4 linked regions of the Homo sapiens genome follow. The protein of the gene in region 2 purifies or fractionates together with the protein of the main gene of each other region. This does not show direct contact. Each region holds a gene or a part of one and is shown on either strand. Other genes may lie near its edges.

What was found.
Region 1: the proteins of TAL1 (region 2) and RCC1 purify together in Homo sapiens (affinity purification with mass spectrometry, with the first as the bait; one study listed by BioGRID). This does not show direct contact.
Region 3: the proteins of TAL1 (region 2) and DLAT purify together in Homo sapiens (affinity purification with mass spectrometry; one large-scale study listed by BioGRID and IntAct). This does not show direct contact.
Region 4: the proteins of TAL1 (region 2) and ATP5F1C purify together in Homo sapiens (affinity purification with mass spectrometry; one large-scale study listed by BioGRID and IntAct). This does not show direct contact.

Annotation. Positions count from the first base shown.
Region 1 is NC_000001.11:28,525,849-28,530,606, reverse strand, and holds part of RCC1 (regulator of chromosome condensation), read right to left. Parts: intron 4,250-4,758; exon of another isoform or gene 3,994-4,249; intron 3,674-3,993; exon of another isoform or gene 3,369-3,673; intron 750-3,368; 5' UTR 741-749; coding exon 668-740; intron 85-667; coding exon of another isoform or gene 1-84. UniProt on the Homo sapiens protein: Guanine-nucleotide releasing factor that promotes the exchange of Ran-bound GDP by GTP, and thereby plays an important role in RAN-mediated functions in nuclear import and mitosis.
Region 2 is NC_000001.11:47,221,514-47,226,271, reverse strand, and holds part of TAL1 (T-cell acute lymphocytic leukemia protein 1), read left to right. Parts: intron 1-382; 5' UTR 383-383; coding exon 384-829; coding exon of another isoform or gene 830-1,006; intron 1,007-2,173; coding exon 2,174-2,268; intron 2,269-4,758. UniProt on the Homo sapiens protein: Implicated in the genesis of hemopoietic malignancies. It may play an important role in hemopoietic differentiation. Serves as a positive regulator of erythroid differentiation.
Region 3 is NC_000011.10:112,038,214-112,042,971, reverse strand, and holds part of DLAT (dihydrolipoyllysine-residue acetyltransferase component of pyruvate dehydrogenase complex, mitochondrial isoform 2 precursor), read right to left. Parts: intron 3,729-4,758; coding exon 3,575-3,728; intron 1-3,574.
Region 4 is NC_000010.11:7,804,483-7,808,865, reverse strand, and holds the end of ATP5F1C (ATP synthase F(1) complex subunit gamma, mitochondrial isoform L (liver) precursor), read right to left. Parts: intron 1,893-4,383; coding exon 1,886-1,892; 3' UTR 1,856-1,885; exon of another isoform or gene 1,850-1,855; intron 1,208-1,849; coding exon of another isoform or gene 1,204-1,207; 3' UTR 1,065-1,203; downstream 1-1,064.

The DNA.
Region 1 (4,758 bases), about 19 Mb from region 2:
TTTTCTGGTCAGGAGGGCTCGGCCCGCAGGCACCTTGGCAGGAGCGGGCGCCAGGAACGCGGCGGGAGGCAGCGGCCCTCGTGTCTGCAAAAGACAGACACTGTCTGAGCGTGGGTCCACACTTCCCCTCCCAGTTTGGTGCTGGCTTTTCTCTCCTCCCTGTCCCCCTCCGGGGTCCCAGGACAGAGGAAACCACAGCCACCTCCCTCAAATGCTGCCAGGCCATTATCTCATCTCATCCTCACACAGCCCAGAGAGGGTGACGCTGCTCTGGCTGCCGCCATTTTAAGAAGTTGATAATCCAAACTGCGGGATTAAGTGACTTGCCCAGCAGCTAGAAAGTGGCAGAGCAAGGACTTGAACCCATGTCGGAAAGTCAGTGGTCCTAACCATAATGCATCACTGCCTGGGGTGAAGCCCTAGGGTCTAGTTTTTTTTTTTTTTTTTTTGTGCCAGTGCTGCCTGAGTGCTTTGAGAGGAGTTTCTGCCCACTTTGTGATTCCCAGAGGGTAGGATTCAATGAGCTACAGGAAACCTTCCAGCTGGGTGGGGTCTCTGCACATCCACACCCTTCAGCTTCAAGCCTCAGGAAGAAAGGAGCCCAGTCCCGGGTTCTTAGGGTTTCAAGGGGCCACCTGTACCCACAAAGAGGCCAAGGCCAACTTACCCTTCACCTTCTTGCTTTTGGGGATGGCATCTGCTGGGGGGGACCTTCTTTTAGCTATGCGCTTGGGTGACATCTTCCTGTCCTGAAAGTCAGTCAAATACTACATATGAGAAATGGCAAACATTTTCCTGGGCCAATCAGACAATATTTATCAAACACTCTAGAAATACGTTAAGAGGAATTGCCCAACAATTCCACTTCTCAAAATGTATCCCAAGAACAGAATAATGGATGCACCCACAGATTAATTACACAAATATTCTCTACTGTATCCTTCATAACATTTTAAAAACAACAAAAACAGAACCCGAATGTTCAATAGTAGTGAACTAAATATGTGGTATATTCATGATAGAACAGTATGAAGCCATCAAAAGTGATGTTTTCAGAGATCAATCTATTGAATAGAAAGATGTTCCCCATTGCCAAGTAAAACAAGCAGAATGAAAAACAGACGGCCAGGTGTGGTGGCTCACATCTGTAATCCCAACACTGTGGGAGGCCGGGGCGGGCGGATTACCTGAGATCAGGAGTTCCAAACCAGCCTGGCCAACATGGCAAAACCCCGTCTCTACTAAAAATACAAAAATTAGCCAGGCACAGTGATGGGCACCTGTAATCCCAGCTACTCAGGAGGCTGAGGCAGGAGAATCGCTTGAACCCGCGAGGTGGAGGTTGTGGTGAGCCAAGATCGAGCCACTGCACTCCAGCCTGGGCAACAGAGCCAGACTGTCTCAAAAAAAAAAAAAAAAAAAAAGCCTGGGCGCGGTGGCTCACGCCTGTAATCCCAGTACTTTGGCACTTTCGGAGGCCAAGGTGGGTGGATCACTTGAGGTCAGGAGTTCGAGACCAGCCTGGCCAACATGGTGAAACCCCGTCGCCACCAAAAAAAAAAAAAAAAATACAAAAATTAGCCAGGCATGGTGGTGTGCGACTGTAATCCCAGCTACTTGGGAGGCTGAGGCAGGAGAATTGCTTGAACCTAGGAGGTGGAGGTTGCGGTGAGCCAAGATCATGCCATTGCACTCAGCACTCCAGCCTGGGAGAAAGAGTAGTGAAACTCCACCCCCCAACCAAAAAAAAAAAAAAAAAAAAGGAAGAAAAACAGCCTATCATCCATTTTTTTTTTTTTTGGAAAAAAAATGCATACACAAAAAATATGTGAGAAAAATGTGGGGAAGAAAATATATCCCATATTAACAATGGTAACCTCGGAAAATGGTATTATAGATAATCATTACTTGTTTCGTTTTATCTTCCTATATTATCTAAGATGTTTAACAAGGAGCATTACATGTATTTTTCTGTTTTTTGAGACGGAGTCTCACTCTGTCGCCAGGCTGGAGCGCACAGGCATGATCTCAGCTCACTGCAACCTCCACCTCCCGGGTTGAAGCAATTCTTGTGCCTCAGCCTTCCGAGTAGCTGAGATTACAGGTGTGCATCACCATGCCCTGCTAAGTTTTGTTTTGTTTTTGTTTTTTTGAAATGGAGTCTCGTTCTGTCACCCAGGCTAGAGTGCAATGGTGCGATCTCGGCTCATGCAACCTCTGCCTCCTGGGTTCAAGTGATTCTCCTGCCTCAGCCTCTCGAGTAGCTGGGATTACAGGCACCCACCACCACACCCAGCTAATTTTTGTATTTTTAGTAGAGACGAGGTTTCACCAGTTTGGCCAGGCTGGTCTCGAACTCCTGATCTCAGTGATCCACCCCGCCTTGGCCTCCCAAAGTGCTGGAATTATAGGCGTGAGCCACTGTGCCCAGCCCAAATTTTGTATTTTTAGTAGAGACGGGGTTTCACCATGTTGGCCAGGCTGGTCCCAAACTCCTAATCTCAAGTAATCCACCTGCCTCAGCCTCCCGAAGTCCTGGGATTACAGGCGTGAGCCACTGCGTACAGCCGATTACATGTTTTTTTTTTTTTTTTTTTGAAGCAGAGTTTTGTTCTTATTGCCCAGGCTGGAGTGCCATGGCGCAATCTCGGCTCACCACAACCTCTACCTCCCAGGTTCAAGTGATTCTCCTGCCTCAGCCTCTGGAGTAGCTAGGATTACAGGCATGTGCCACCACGCCCGGCTTATTTTGTATTTTTAGTAGAGATGGGGTTTCTCCATGTTGGTCCCGCTGGTCTTGAACTCCTGACCTCAGATGATCCACCCACCTTGGCCTCCCAAAGTGCGGGATTACAGGCGTGAGCCATCGTGCCTGGCCACATGTATTTAAAAAATTTTTAAGTCTGTTGTAAAAAATTAAAACATTGAAGAACAACATTAAATGAAATATCCATCATAACTCCATTCAACCCCATGTAAGCACCAGTAACTTTGGTAATGTGTTGTTATAATCAGAGGGGGAGAAGAGCTATTTTCTTTTCTTATTTAATTGATTGATTTTTTTTAGAGACAAGGTGCCACCACACCTGTAATCCTAGCACTTTGGGAAGTCGAGGCAGGAGGATCGCTTGAGCCCAGGAGTTCAAGACCAGCGTGGGCAACATGGCGAAACCCCATTTCTATCCAAAAAATTACAAAAATTAGCCGGGCATGGTGGTGCACGCCTGAAGTCCTGGCTACTCAGGAGGCTGAGGTGGGAGGATGGCGTGAGCCTGGGAGGCTGAGGCTAAATTGAGCTGAGATTGTGCCACTGTACTTTAGCCTGGGCGAAAGAGACAGACACTGTCTCAAAAAAACAAAAACACACATGCACTGAAGATCGCGGCTGCTGTGGGAAGGTTACTCTGAGCATCAGTTGCCCGGCATGTGAGTGCCATTCCTTGGGGGCATTTCTGCCACTGCAGCCCTCAGGCCTGCTGCTTCTGGAAGAACAAGTTTGACAAACATATTGTGGTCTGGTTCCGGTCAAGCAAAATTCTGGTACCAGTTCCTCATACCATGCACCTGATGTCACCCAGCATGCGCCCTATTTTAAGGGTACAGCCGTGGTCAATGGAGAGTTCAAAGACCTAAGCCTTGATGACTTTGAGGGGAAATATTTGGTGCTTTTCTTCTATCCTTTGGATTTCTTTCTTTTTTTTTTTTTTTCCGAGACGGAGTCTTGCTGTGTCACCCAGGCTGGAGTGCAGTGGCACGATCTCGGCTCACTGCAACCTCCCCCTCCTGGGTTCAAGCCAATTCTCCTGCCTCAGCCTCCTGAGTACCTGGAATTACAGGCGCCTGCCACGACGCCTGGCTAATTTTTGTATTTTTAGTAGAGATGGGATTTCACCATGTTGGTGAGGCTGGTCTTGAACTCCTGAACTCAGGTGATCCACCCACCTCAGCCTCCCAAAGTGCTGGGATTACAGGTGTGAGCCACCGCGCCCAGCCCTATCCTTTGGATTTCACCTTTGTGTGTCCTACAGAAATTGTTGCTTCTAGTGACAAAGCTAAGGAATTTCACGATGTGAACTTTGAAGTTGTTGCAGTCTCAGTGGATTCCCACTTTAGCCGTCTTGCCTGGATAAATACACCAAGAAAGAATGGTGCTTTGGGCCACATAAACATCGCACCCTTGTCAGATTTAACTAAGCGAATTTCTCGAGACTTCGGTGTGCTGTTAGAAGGTCCTGGTCTTGCACTAAGAGGTCTCTTCATAATTGACCCCAATGGAGTCATCAAGTACTTGTTTTTGTTTGTTTGTTTGTTTGTTTTTTTGAGACAGCATCTCACTCTCTGTTGCCCAGGCTCAAGTGCAGTGGCACAATCACGGCTCATTGCAGGTTTGACCTCTTGAGCTCAGGTGATCCTCCCACCTCAGCCTCTAGAATAGCTGGGACTACAAGTGCGCATCACAGTGTCCAGCTAATTTTTATATATTTTGTAGAGACAGGGTTTTGCCAAGTTGCCCAGGCTGGTCTAGAACTCCTGGGCTCAAGCGATCTACCCGCCTCAGCCTCCCAAAGTGCTGGGATTACAACAGCTGTGAGCCACCATGCCCGGCCGGAGCCACAGTCTTTAAGGTCATGAAAAACAATCAAGTTGTCTAAGCCTCTACCTAATGTTACGAAGGGAAGGAGAACTCCAAGAGCCCTTCTCGGTCTCAGCTCTGGGCCTAACCAGCAGCCCCCTCATTCCTTCCTTCTAGTGGTTCCC
Region 2 (4,758 bases):
AAGGGGACAGAGTAATCTCTTTCTTGCCTCCTTGTACATTTCCTTCCTCCTGATTTCCCCTTCTGTGTTTCTGTCGCTGGCTGTATTCCTTTTCTTCCGGTGTCTCTGTCGTCTTCCTCCATCTCTGTCCTTTTGGCCCTCAGTCTCTGTGTCTCCCAGGCACCCCTCCCTTCTCCCAATCCAGAGACCCTCTTTCCCTCCCACCCTAGCCCCAACCGGCCTCCCGCCCTAGCCCCACGTGGCGCTAACTTTGTCTGCCTCTTCTCACGTCTCGGTGCGTGAGTTCCTCTCTCTGCCCTTCTCCCCTTTACCCCAGCCCACGTCGGTGGGTCAGGGGCGGTCGTCAGAGCGGGCATCCGCTTGTCTGTCTGTCTGCCCACAGGATGACCGAGCGGCCGCCGAGCGAGGCGGCTCGCAGTGACCCCCAGCTAGAGGGACGGGACGCGGCCGAGGCCAGCATGGCCCCCCCGCACCTGGTCCTGCTGAACGGCGTCGCCAAGGAGACGAGCCGCGCGGCCGCAGCGGAGCCCCCAGTCATCGAACTGGGCGCGCGCGGAGGCCCGGGGGGCGGCCCTGCCGGTGGGGGCGGCGCCGCGAGAGACTTAAAGGGCCGCGACGCGGCGACGGCCGAAGCGCGCCATCGGGTGCCCACCACCGAGCTGTGCAGACCTCCCGGGCCCGCCCCGGCCCCCGCGCCCGCCTCGGTTACAGCGGAGCTGCCCGGCGACGGCCGCATGGTGCAGCTGAGTCCTCCCGCGCTGGCTGCCCCCGCCGCCCCCGGCCGCGCGCTGCTCTACAGCCTCAGCCAGCCGCTGGCCTCTCTCGGCAGGTCAGGGGCCAGGGGCCAGGGGCCAGGGGCTGGGCGGGTGGGCAGGGCGACCACCCCCACCGGGGTTTCCTTCTACACATCGGCGGCGGCCTGCCCTGGGGGCCGAGCGGGTGGAGCGCAGGGAGAGGAGGTCGTTTTAAACCCAGTGGCTCTAGAGCCTCAAGCTGGAGCCCCCGAGTGAGTGCCAGTGAGGGAGGGGCCTTCTGTGAGAGAGAGTGTGCGTGTGGCTGCGGGGTGCATGGCTGTGTGGAAGCCGAGAGGAGGACGTGGACACCTTCGCGGGTGCAGGCATGTGGCTGGTGTGCTTGGTGGTGGTGTCGTGGGGGACGGAGAGGAAGGAGTCCCCTGAGCGTGGGTACCAGGAAAGAGTGTGCCTGCATGTGCTTTGCTGTGAGCAGAGGTAGATGTTTGTGGTGTGAAATTCATTCGGAAACTCAGCGCTAGCTGGACAGGCAAGAGATAAGGATCTGAGGGTGGTGGCAGAGGCACCCTCCCCCGAATCTCTGCTGGAGGGCCCGCCTGAGGACTGACCTGTCCCTCCACTCCCAGCCCCTCTGCTCCTAGCCGTGGTCTCTGGCCCCAGCCTGTACTCCGGTTGGTGTCAGGGCATCCGTTTCCCTGCTGGCGCTACTGTGATGATGAGGGAGAGAAGCCATAGGGTTGGAATAGAAACCGGCAGATGGGGCAGGGATAGAGTGTGGGGCAGTCAATGAACCTGGCGGGCACCCGAGACAGAGCTATGGGGAGCTTAGGGTGGGTGAGGGCAGAGAGCTAGGCGGAGCATTTCAGCTGAGGGGAGTCAGGGTTTCCTGTCTGTTGTGTATCTACAGCCCCTTATGGGTGGGGTGAGGTGGGGAGAGGGGACAGTGTGCCCCTTTGTGGTGACCAAGATGCACACCATCAGGTGTGAAGGTTACATTTGCCTGAGTGGGCATGTGTTTGGGAGTGGAGGTGTGTGTGGATTATGTGCTTGTTTCTGGGGCGGGAGAATGGAGAGTGTTTCTATCTGTGAAGTGTGTGTGTGTGTGTGTGTGTGTGTTCATTTTTGTGTTTATTCCATGTGTTATTCACCTCTGCTTCTGCATATGTGCCTGTGTTTGTGTGGAGGGATGTGTGGTTAGGTGTCTTTTCCTCCCTTTGCTTGTTTTATGACAGACAGAGTGAGGGCATTCCGTGTGTATGTGTGTGTGTGTGTCTGTGTGTGCCTATTCCCAGCTCAAGTGTGAAGGGACCAGGGTTGCCCAGAGGTGGGGGGCTCAAGACATGTGGGGAGGATCCCTAAGGAAGCTCTTTCTCCCCTCCCCTCAACATGGGATCTTGTGATCTGCCCGTTCCCTCCCACAGCGGGTTCTTTGGGGAGCCGGATGCCTTCCCTATGTTCACCACCAACAATCGAGTGAAGAGGAGACCTTCCCCCTATGAGATGGAGATTACTGATGGTGAGTCTGCCCCACCCCACCGTTGTACCTGCCCCTCACGCTGGTTAGAGCCCTCTGGAGGAGGGAACATCTGGGACTACTCCGTAGGTATCTCACAAAGATGGGCGGGCCACTTTCCAAACCCAAACTGCCGAAGCCCTTCACCCTGCAGCTGAGCTAGGGCTAAGTAAAGTCCTGGATGGGGCTAGCAGGACCACACTCACAGTCCTGCAAAGAGGAGGCATGGGAGAGAGACACATAATGGCGCTTAGCCCAAACCTCTGGAGTTAGTTCCCAAACCTTTGGAGTTAGTTCCAGTCCCCAGTCCGGGCTCCATTCCTACACTTTGGCAAGGATCCCAAGTGGGCGCAGAATCACACAGTGTCCCCCGATCCCCCATTCTAGGCACTGACCCTCAGGGATTCCCTGCACTTCCTCCCAAGTCTTCCTTAGAGTCTGGAGTCTGCTTCCTCCCTGCAATGGAGTCATCAAGGGTTTTCTCCGAGGTCCCTACACAGTAGGCTCCCCTTGTCTCCCGTTAACACATTCTGGGCTTAGACCTGGAGTTCCCTTCCTGACATCATGGATTCTACCTTGCCCCCTGGATTCCCCGAGAAGGGCCTTGGCACTGCTCCTTTGAGGTACTTGAATATTCCCTGAACTTGCAGGGGTGGTTTGGACAAATGGGAGATTTGGAAGACCCTCGCCATCTTTCCAAGGTTGACCTTGTATAGTAGATTGGTCCCAGCACCAGGGGTAGGAGAGCAGGCACTTCAGAGCTGAGGGACTTTGAGCCAGACCCAGATGCCCCCAGAACTTCAGCTTGGCTGTGGCCTGGGGCTCCTGTAGGAAGGCTGCCCAAGGCCTCAGAGCAAGGCTGGGATTTATGCTCCAAACTGGTGGGAGGAATATGAGTATGGAGCTGGAGCCTCTGGAGTGGAGCCCTCTGTGGTGTTCTGGAGAGGAGCGGGGCTGGGATCTGCACAACAGAAAAGACTTCAAAAGACCCAAGCAGCCTGGGGCACAGGTGTGCAGGGCTGAGAGGCAGGGGTGCCTTCTGCTAGATTAGAGAGGAGTTCTCTAGTCTAAGAGAGGTGGGTGTACCAAACAGGAAGAAGACAGGACCAGCCCTGAAGTTCCCCAGGGATGAGGCATTTTCTACAATAGGCAGAAGAGGCAGAGCATAGGGGCGAGGGTTTGTGGGGTGTGCAGGAGTGTAGGGCAGTCATTATCCATAAGTGTTGGCAATATTTACCGAGCACCTACTCAGTGCTGGCCAGAGAGAGGCAGAGGACACCAGGAGGGGTAGACAGACTCAGGAAAGAGGAAGGTGAGGAGAGGGGGTGGTTCTCTGGAATAAAACCAGAGAGGAATAGGCAGACATGTAGGCGAAGGGTAGGGTATGAGTGTGCAGGATGTGTCTAGGGGACACTGAAATTAGAGATTGAACCCAAAAAGAGTCCATAGAAGTAGAACTAATGCAAGATCTAGAGTTAGGACTTGATGTGGATTCCTGTTGCTGAATTGCTACTACCATGTATTGGACACCTACTATGTGCCATGGACTATGTGTGCTTGATTTCTGTTTATTCCTTACCACAAGCTCATGAGGGCAATATTATTGTTTACATCTCACAGATAAGGAAATTGAGGCTGAGAGAGGTTACCCAGCTTGATCAAGGTCACACAGCTAAGTCCTGGGTCACACAGCTAAGTCCTGGACCACCCTCATAACACTGGTCTTAAGCTTTGGAATAAGTCCTGACCACTTCCCCACCATCTCCCCTTCTGGATGTAGTCTAGCTCCAGCTGTGACAGCAGTCATAAGTACCCCCTCCCCAACTAGGAGCTCCCTCAAGATCACCAGCATTAGCCATGGTGGAGGGACTGTCCTCCCTATGTCACTGCTGAGGGATGCTCTCTGTCTGGCCTGGAGGCCTGAAAGCAGCAAGTAATTTCCTCAGAGGCCGCCCAGGGTAGAACTGCCCTGCAGTTGTGCTGTGTTTTTCCCAGGCTGGGTCTGGCCTTTGGCAAACAGTCAGCTGGGCTAGGGCCTGCTATGGTTTGGAAAGGCAGCTTCAGAGGTACCATGGGCAGGGGATGGTGATCCTTCCCATTAAAAGTGTGTGTGTGTGAACACCCACACATGCATGTGCATGCCTGTGTGCGTGTAGGAGAGAGAAAGAGATGATCAGGCAGTAAGTGTGGCATGGATGAGCTGATTCACAGACTGACCACTGAGGTGAGGTCTGCTTCCATCCCAGCCTCAGTCTCCTTAGCTATAAAATGGGCAGTGGGACTTAGGTGAGGTCTTAGCTCTTCTCCTCTACCTCGGTTTTCACACTCTGAGGTCTGGTTCCAGGGGTTACTAGAAGAGGGAAAATAAATATCCTAGGACTGGCAGTTCCTTCAGTGCTCAGAGCTTCCTGGACTATGTGACCCTGGCTTGTGCCTCGATGTTAGGGAGAGAAGCAGTCTCCTCAGCCCAGAAGTTCAAGAGCACTAGTAGGA
Region 3 (4,758 bases), on a different chromosome or scaffold from region 2:
GGTATAACAATAATTGTTTTGACAAATCAAGTCGATTTTTTCACCCCAAAATAGCACGAATAACTCTTTACTGCAATTATCTTATCTTTAGAATCATTCATTCCTTATGTGGTCTCTATGACTCATAGCTTTTTCACAGTAGCCAAGGCTCTAAACTGGCCCGTGTTAAAGGAAATGAAGGAAAAAGGTGCAATGTCACACATGAGGAAGGATCTTCAAAGTTCTCTCAGTAGGTTTAATTTTACTTATATTCAATTTCCTCCCTCCTCCCACCTACAGCCTCTTAGGTTTAATTTTGGACCCAAGTAGATAATCTTGACCTTTAATTCTACGGAGATTCAGAATTTAGTTATTATTATAGAATACCTTTTACACTGGCCCACTTCTAGGAAAAATTTGGTCAAACTGATTCATCTTCCCCCAAGGCAGACTTTAAAAAGGACTCTTGTTGTGTGTAGTTCTTCCCAATTCCTTTCCTTCATTACGAAAACTGAGTTGGCTAGGATTGTATTTATCCTCACTAGGAGCTCTAGAACAGAGGTGGTAGTACCCCTATTAGATTTCTCTCCTTTGTAAAAGACAGAAACCATAACCTCCCCTTACAACCAAGGCTGATCTAGACACCACAGTCCCTCAAGAGGAGGAAATCCATAGTACCACCTGCCTTATGCTAAGCTTCAGCCACCCACAAGAATTTCCTGACTTAGGAGTTAGTTGAAACCTTGTAAACCCTTTTCCCTATCTCTCTTGGGCGGCACAACAGGCCATCATAAAGCAATATGGTATAAAGGGAACAACACTGGACTATGGGTAACAAAAAGTAGGGATCTTGTCAAACATAAACTATATAAACGTTTCATCCATTTCCATGGAGCAACCAAAATGATCTTTTCAAAACATAATCATTTTATTTCACTTCTTTGCTTAAATTTCTCAATGGCTTCCTCAAGTACTTTAAATAAAATTCAAACTCTTTACCATAATCTATAAGGTCATTTATGTTCTCATCCCTGTTTTTTTCCAATCTCATCTCCTACTAGACCCTTTGCTCATTATGCTTCATTAACACTGGCCTTTTTTTTTTTTCTTTGAGACGGAGTCTTGCTCTGTCGCCCAGGCTGGAGTGCAGTGGCACTATCTCGGCTCACTGCAAGTTTGGCCTCCCAGGTTCACGCCATTCTCCTGCCTCAGCCTCCCGAGTAGCTGGGACCACAGGCGCCTGCCACCATGCCCAGCTAATTTTTTTGTATTTTTAGTAGAGACGAGGTTTCACCGTGTTAGCCAGGATGGTCTCCATCTCCTGACCTGTGATCCACCTGCCTCGGCCTCCCAAAGTGCTGGGATTACAGGCGTGAGCCATTGCGCCTGGCCAACACTGGCCTCTTTTATGTTCCTCAGACATGCTAAACTCTTTCCCATTTCAGACTGTGTACAGCTAGTCTCTCTATCCAAAATGATCTTTCCCCAGTTCTTCACATGGTTGGCTCAAGCTGCCTCCTTCTTATCTTTCAAAACAAATCAAATGTCACCTCATCAAAAAGATCTCCCAACCAACCTGTCTAAAAGTAGTCATGACTGCACATATATCCATTCACCCTTTCACTCACTAGTATATCACTGAGTTTCTTTCTTTCTTAGCACTCAAATCATCTTATTTAATAACAAAAATATTATTATCATTATAGCTAATACCTAGATATGCTTTCTCTGTACAGGCACTGGTTAACTTATTTAAACCTCACAACCATTAAACCTAATGTTTTTATATACAAAGAAATTGTGACACAAAAGGTCACACAGCTAGTATAAAGAGCTGAGGTTCATACCCAAGCATTCCAGCTACAGAGCTCACACTCTTAACTACTATGCTATACTCCCTTTCTGTTCATTTAATTCTTTATTGTTGGTCATATAAGCAACTGAAACTGAAATCTTATCCATCTGATGAACAAGTGTCTGATGTGTAGATAGCAGTCGATGATATTTATCACCTAACTCTGCCTGCATAGTAAGAACAGTGGGATTTTCTTTCTTTCTTTTTTTTTTTTAACACTCCTCTCAGCTCATACCTAAGGGATTTTCCACTTATATCTTTAGTAAGGTAACGAGTATTGCTGAATATCTAATAAATGGTCCTTCTTTGCTTGTCTAAATTCTTTAGATATAATTATTAACCCAGTCCTTTCTCCCTTTAAAAGTTACTCCAACTTACACTGCTGTCCCTGATTCTAATCATATATACATATATGATAGCAATATACTACTGAAATGGCATTAAGATGGAAAAAAAAGAATCTTCCAATATTACAAGAATCTCTGAGGTCCAAAAAATTTACAACATTCTACTCTTGTGTCTTGGGATTGGCTTGACTTCTAACTACAAGATAGCAAATTGCAGATACGGGATAACCACCATTGAGTACCCATAACTAGAAAATTGGGGAAATAAGCATATTTTTCTTTAGTAATTATGGATGGCAGAGCATCAAAACAGAAGGCAGGATAGGGTAGTGTGAAGAAACAGGCTTTAGAGTTAAACAAATCTAGAGTTACACTGCAACTTTACTATTTAACAGGAAGGAAGAACCCTGAAGAGTCTGAGAGTCTGTTTTCTTATCCAGAAAATAAGGAATGATAATTCTTACTTCAAGAAGTGTTGTGTACATTAAGTATGGTAAGTTAAATGACTGACACATAGTACAAGCCATCAAACCAAGTTCCAAGCATAATAACTTCCCCCCATTCCAAATAAGTACCTTAGTTATCCTACACTAAATTTTAGCTTAAGTTTAATTCAAAAAAACTTATTTAAGCACCAGGCAGTAATATCAATATGAATGACAACTAACATGTATTGAGTACTTATATGCTAGATACAGTTCTAAGCACTTCACCTGTTATAGCTCATTTAACTCTCACAATCTATACGATGTACAGTACCTCAGTTTTACAGATAGAAAAGTAATTGACATAAGGACATACAATCTAAGTAATTCACTGGAAAACATATTACATAGAAAATTATAAAGCCAGGATTAAATGCTAGGTGGTCTGATTCCAGGCCCCATGCTCTTATCACAAAGCTATATTTTTTCTTTGGCGGCAGACAGACAAGTAAGGCGTTTTCCCTTGCCTTCAGGGAGCTCTAGTTCTGTTTTATATGAATTTTATTAAGTCATTCCAAATCACCCCAACTTCAAATTTTATTTTGCTTTGCTTATTGCTACAGTCAACCAAGCACTAACAGAGGTTTCTTATTACATAATCAAGTCCCATAACCAAATTTTACATATACTTTCACCAAACAAGCAGTTTCCATGAATAGAAGAGGAAAAAAAAAGGTATCTAAAGTGTATGGGTAGATTCTAGGCAGAGTAAATAAAGCTCAGTAAAAGTTTCCCTACTCTGTGGTGGCAACAAAAGAACTATTTCTCCCTTCTGAAGGAATTATTAATGATTGTCCCTACTATCCCAATTATAAGTACGGCTATACATAGTTGTACTTGCAAGTCTTAAGGAGGAAATTCAACTAAATTTTAACTTTATAAAGTCCATTCTATAGAAACAGATTTACCTTTTACTTGTGTAAGATCAATCCCTTTCTCTACTGCCAACTTCTTTGCAAGAGGGCTAACAAACACCCTTCCCTTTGGTCCAGCAGGAGTAGCTGGGCAGGGTGCTGAAGGTGTAGGAGCTAAAGGCTGGGGAGTTGGAGGAACAGCGGCCACCTTTTGAAAAAAAATTACAAATTGTTTTAATTCACCACTTCAAAGACTGGTCTGAAAGATTAAAAGTTTACATCTTATTAATAAATTAAAACTATTTTAATTAAATATTAATAACTTTCATTTTTCCAAAGATCATAATGTACTTTTCGCCAGCTTAACCAACATAATGTAGTAATACGAACAGCGAGAACAATATACTTCTATATCAAAGACAGAACAGTTACCTTATTCCATAACAACATGAAGCACAGAATTGAATATTGCCAATCAGTGTATAGTATTCTACAGCCTTTCTTCACTTTAATCTCTTACCACTTCTTTATTCGCATTCTTTTACATCACCAACATGATTTTTATTTTTAATTATCCTAACTTCTTTTTTTTTTTTCTTTTTATTTGAGACAGAGTCTTGCTCTGTCACCCAGGCTGGAGTGCAGTGGCGCAAACTTGGCTCACTGCAACCTCCGCCTCCTGGGTTCAAGCAATTCTCCTGCCTCAGCCTCCCAAGTAGCTGGGATTAAAGGCACGCACCACCACGCCCAGCTAATTTTTTGTATTTTCAGTAGAGATGGGGTTTCACCATGTTGGCCAGGCTGGTCTTGAACTCCTGACCTCAAGCGATCCACCTGCCTCAGCCTCCCAAAGTGCTGGGATTACTGGCATGAGCCACCACACCCAGCCAGCTAATTTCAAAATATAAAATTATGCTGTAAGGCCCCATGTTGAAAAGTATCTTAAGAAATACGGCCAGGTGTGGTGGCTCACACCTGTAATCCCAGCACTTTGGGAGGCCGAGGTGGGTGGATCACCTGAGGTCAGGAGTTCGTGACCAGCCTGGCCAACACGGTGAAACCCCTTCTCTACTAAAAATAAAAAAATTAGCCGGGCATGGTGGCTAACACCTGTAATCCCAGCTACTCGGGAGGTCGAGGCAGGAGAATTGCTTGAACCCGGGAGGCATAGGCTGCAGTGAGCCAAGATCACGCCACTGCACGCCAGCCTGGGTGACGGAGCAAGACTCCGTCTCAAC
Region 4 (4,383 bases), on a different chromosome or scaffold from region 2:
GATTCCTCAGTTGTGAGCTGTTTCTTTCTCCTAGTCTCAGCCACCAACCCCTTCAGAAGTGGCTCCTGAAAACTTTGAGGGGAGTTAGAAAATGACTTTGAAGCTCTGGTCAGTTCACTGAACCTTTTTATTCATTACCACGAATATAGCTGTAAATATTTAAAGAATCCATTCTAAATACATGCATTCATTTGTTTTTAAAAGAGGAGCTTGTTAAGAATGGGTTTTATATTGTTTATAATTTTATGTATTTTGGAATTTATATATTACTTTTGTAATTAAAAAAAACCCAAAAAACTAAGTTATCAATTTTAAACAAATAGGGAAAAGCCTGAAATTTTGGCATGGCCAACTCAGAGTGTGGAGTCAACGCAGGCATCTAATCTTAATTGTGATCTAAATGTGAGTATCGTACTTTTCTCAGTGTTTAGAAAAGATGTTTTAAATAATTTAGAGTAAGTATATGCTTGCAATTTTGTATCCAGAATTCCAAGCAAATGCTTCCTGTGGCATTTTTTTTTTTTTTTTGGAACAGAGTCTTACTCTGTTGCCCAGGCTGGAGTACAGTGGCGCGATCTCAGCTCACTGCAACCTCTGCCTCCCAGGTTTAACCGATTCTCCTGCCTCAGCCTCCTGAGTAGCTGGGATTACAAGTGTGCACCATTTTTGTATTTTGTTTTGTTTTTAGTAGAAACAGGGTTTCACCATGTTGGCCAGGCTAGTCTCAAATTCCTGACCTCCAGTGATCCACCTTGAGTCTCAGTCTCCCAAAGTGTTAGGACTGCAGGCATGAGCCACCGTGCCTGGTCTTGTTGACTGTTCTTTAAGGCTGTAATAAGGCACAGAACTGGGCTGAGGCTGTGGCTGCAGCCCTTTCCCTCTACGTTGTCCCCATAGAGGCTAGACATTTTAAGGTCAGTGGAGCACTACCAAATCAAAAGAGCCTCTTAAATTGTCTTCTACTAAAAAATTTTAATAGTAGCATATTAATATTTTTAAATGTTTTAGTATCATCTCATTTCAAAAACTATATCTATTGTTCTTATATATAAGAAAAACAATGATTTTATTTTAAGTTGTTTATTTTAAGATAATTTACAAATATCTTGCTGTCTTCAGTAATTCAAATAATGGAGGAACAGTTTCTTCGGACAAAGGCAGCAGTAAGCTAAAAACAAAATCAACTGGCTGAATTTTCCTTCTTTACCTGAAAAACAAAGTACAGAACAAGTAAGAAATCAAACAGCATTTTTTGGGAAAATAATGTCAAGAGATAATAATACATATTTAAGTGGGGTACAGAGAACTGAATTTACACAATAAAGTGTTACCCTATACCAGTGATTCTAAAATTTTGGTCTGGGGAACCTTTCATGGGGTTCATGAGGTCAAAACTATTTTCATGATAATGTTATTTTGCCTGTTATATTCTCATTCTCGAGTATACAGTAGAGTTTTCCAGAGGCCACATGATCCATGACATCACAACAAAATGAATAGAGACAGATGAAAATCTAGCTGGCTTCTGCTACATGAATCAGACATTAAGGGGTCCAGAGACCATAAAGTGTGACAACCACCACTCTTCACAACCTATATATAATATCTCAAAATAATGTTAATTCTCTATCCTCAAAGTTTATTTCCTTATATCTACATTTTCTATGATCAACACACTCACTACAAAAAAGTCCACTAGCGTTGCCCAGGTGCTCCCGTGAGTTGGCTGCTACTGTGAAGTGGCCCATCCATCTAAATCTCTCAGAGGACAATTCTAGGATTACTAAATTAGCTTAACTTATATCTGAATAGGTTTCTTTTCTGAACAGACATGGGAAGAATGTGTGAACTTTACCTCTTGTCTGAGGATGGAACTTGATTTTCATTAATCCCTGGTTATTATATTAGAAGAAAAAGACAAACACAAAACAAGCAGGTCAAGAAGCAATCCATGCTAGTTAATCACATATGCTTTCCAATGAAAAAAAGTCAATTGTTAAACTTGATACCTTGAGTACATCATGCAAAAATACTTACCACAAGATTCCTTTGAAACAGACTCAATGACTGTTATAAAAAGTCATAGATTTCAATCCAGGTTAGAAGCAATAAAAACATGCTCATGCAAGTAGGCAAGACTATGAATATGTAATTTAAATTACAATTTTTCTATAAATTAACACAATATATTTAGAGGTTTTTTTTTTTTTTGGAGATGGAGTCTTGTTCTGTTGCCCAGGCTGGAGTGCAGTGGCGTGATCTCAGCTCACTGCAACCTCCTCCTGGGTTCAAGTCATTCTCCTGCCTCAGCCTCCCGAGTAGCTGGGATTACAGGTGCCCGCCACCACGCCCAGCTAATTTTTGTACTTTTTTAGTAGAGACGGGGTTTTGCCATGTTGGCCAGGCTGGTCTGGAACTCCTGACCTCAGGTGATCCACCCGCCTCGGCCTCCCAAAGTGCTGGGATTACAGGCATGAGCCACTGCGCCTGGCCATATTTAGTTTTTAGGCTGGCAACTAATACTTGGACCTCGAATACTATGGTTTACTCATGTTCTTAATTATATTACTAAATAGCCAAATATGTTTATTTTGTTTTTTGATCTTTTTCTTTTCCAAGTATGTTTAAATATTCAAGTCTTGATTCAGAATAACTGATAGGTTACAGAGCATGCAAACCCATTCACAAGCAATCCAACCTTGGCACTGCATAGCTAAGTTTTTGTATAAGGATTTAGACTACCTTCCTAGGAAGCAAAAACTTAATACTCAATTTCCAATTATGTGGATTCCTTTTTCTAAATTCTTGGTTTTGTGCAGTGGCACGATCATAGCTCACCGCAGCCTAAAACTCCTGGGCTCAAGCAATCCTCCTGCCTCAATTTCCTGAGTAGCTAGGACAACAGGCACATGCCACCAGGCCTGGCTAATTTTTTCATTTTTGTAGAGATGGGGTCTTGCTATGTTGCTCAGGCTTGTCTTGAACTCCTGGGCTCAAGCAATCCACTCGCTTCGGTCTCCCAAAATGCTGGGATTACAAGCATGAGCCAATGCACCCAGCTGTTTCTGTTACTTTTAAATAGGTTTCCTGCATTTCTTTTTTTTTTTTTTTTTTTTTTTGAGAAGGAGTCTTGCTCTTTTGCCCAGGCTGGAGTGCAGTGGCGCAATCTCGGCTCACTGCAAGCTCCGCCTCCCAGGTTCATGCCATTCTCCTGCCTCAGCCTCCATAGTAGCTGGGACTACAGGCGCCCACCACCACGCCCAGCTAATTTTTTGTATTTTTAGTAGAGACGGGGTTTCACCGAGTTAGCCAGGATGGTCTCAATCTCCTGACCTTGTGATCCGCCCACCTCTGCCTCCCAAAGTGCTGAGATTACAGGCGTCAGCCCCTGCGCCCGGCCAGGTTTCCTGCATTTCTAATGAAGAAATAGGCTGGTCCTCAATTTTGCAGAAGTTGTATCATCATAGGTCATACCTAACATTCGTTTGTCAAGAGCAAAAAAACCCCCTTGGGTTCTCTGGATCTCACACAGCCCACAAACCTTCAGAATGTGGTTCCTTCCCGCAGGCTTTGTCACACTTAAGATCCAAGAACAAATCAGCCTGGCTTTAACATGGGGTAGATGGCAAGAAGGATAATGGCTAATAGAAGGTTTTAGTCCTTGTATTAGTCCCCATGTTACAGATGACAAAGCTGAGTAACAGAGAGAGTATCCTAACCAAGTTCATCAAGCTAGACACCATGAGACAGTATTCTGTGATGCTGATAGAACATTGGTGACCAGGCTGTGAATGGGTTAGTCCTAACACAGCTGTGCTTAGAAAGTAAAATAAGAGAAGAATGCTTAGGATAGCGAGGCTGATGGATCCAACTAACAACTTACACAAAGGTCTCTGTTGGCTCAAAAAGTTCTAGTTGTGTCTCTCTGGCATTCTGCCCAGTTTCTGCCCTTGAAAAGTAACACTTAAGGAACACTTTAAATAGTGATGAACTTTTCCCTGACTCTTAAAACCATGGACCCACATTTTCATACACCCAATAAAATGTTATTTGTCCCTCTTCTGAACTTCCAGTTCTGAATACATATGGCATTTCATTCATTCATTCAACATTCACGAAGGAGGTATGTACCAGGCAATGGGGACACAAAAGTGAATAAGATATGGTCCCATCCTAGCCTCGAGGAGCACACAGACAAATAAAAAGCCAATTCCTCATACAAGGCTGTAAGAGCTAAGCTAAATGGAAGACAGGATGCTGCAGAAGGCTGCCTCACTCAGACTGAAGGAAGGAGTGTTTTCTGGAAGAAAGGATTCCCCCAGCTGAGTAAGGAAGGATACACAGGAGGCAGTCAGATGAAGAATCAAGGGAGCAAGGGAAGAA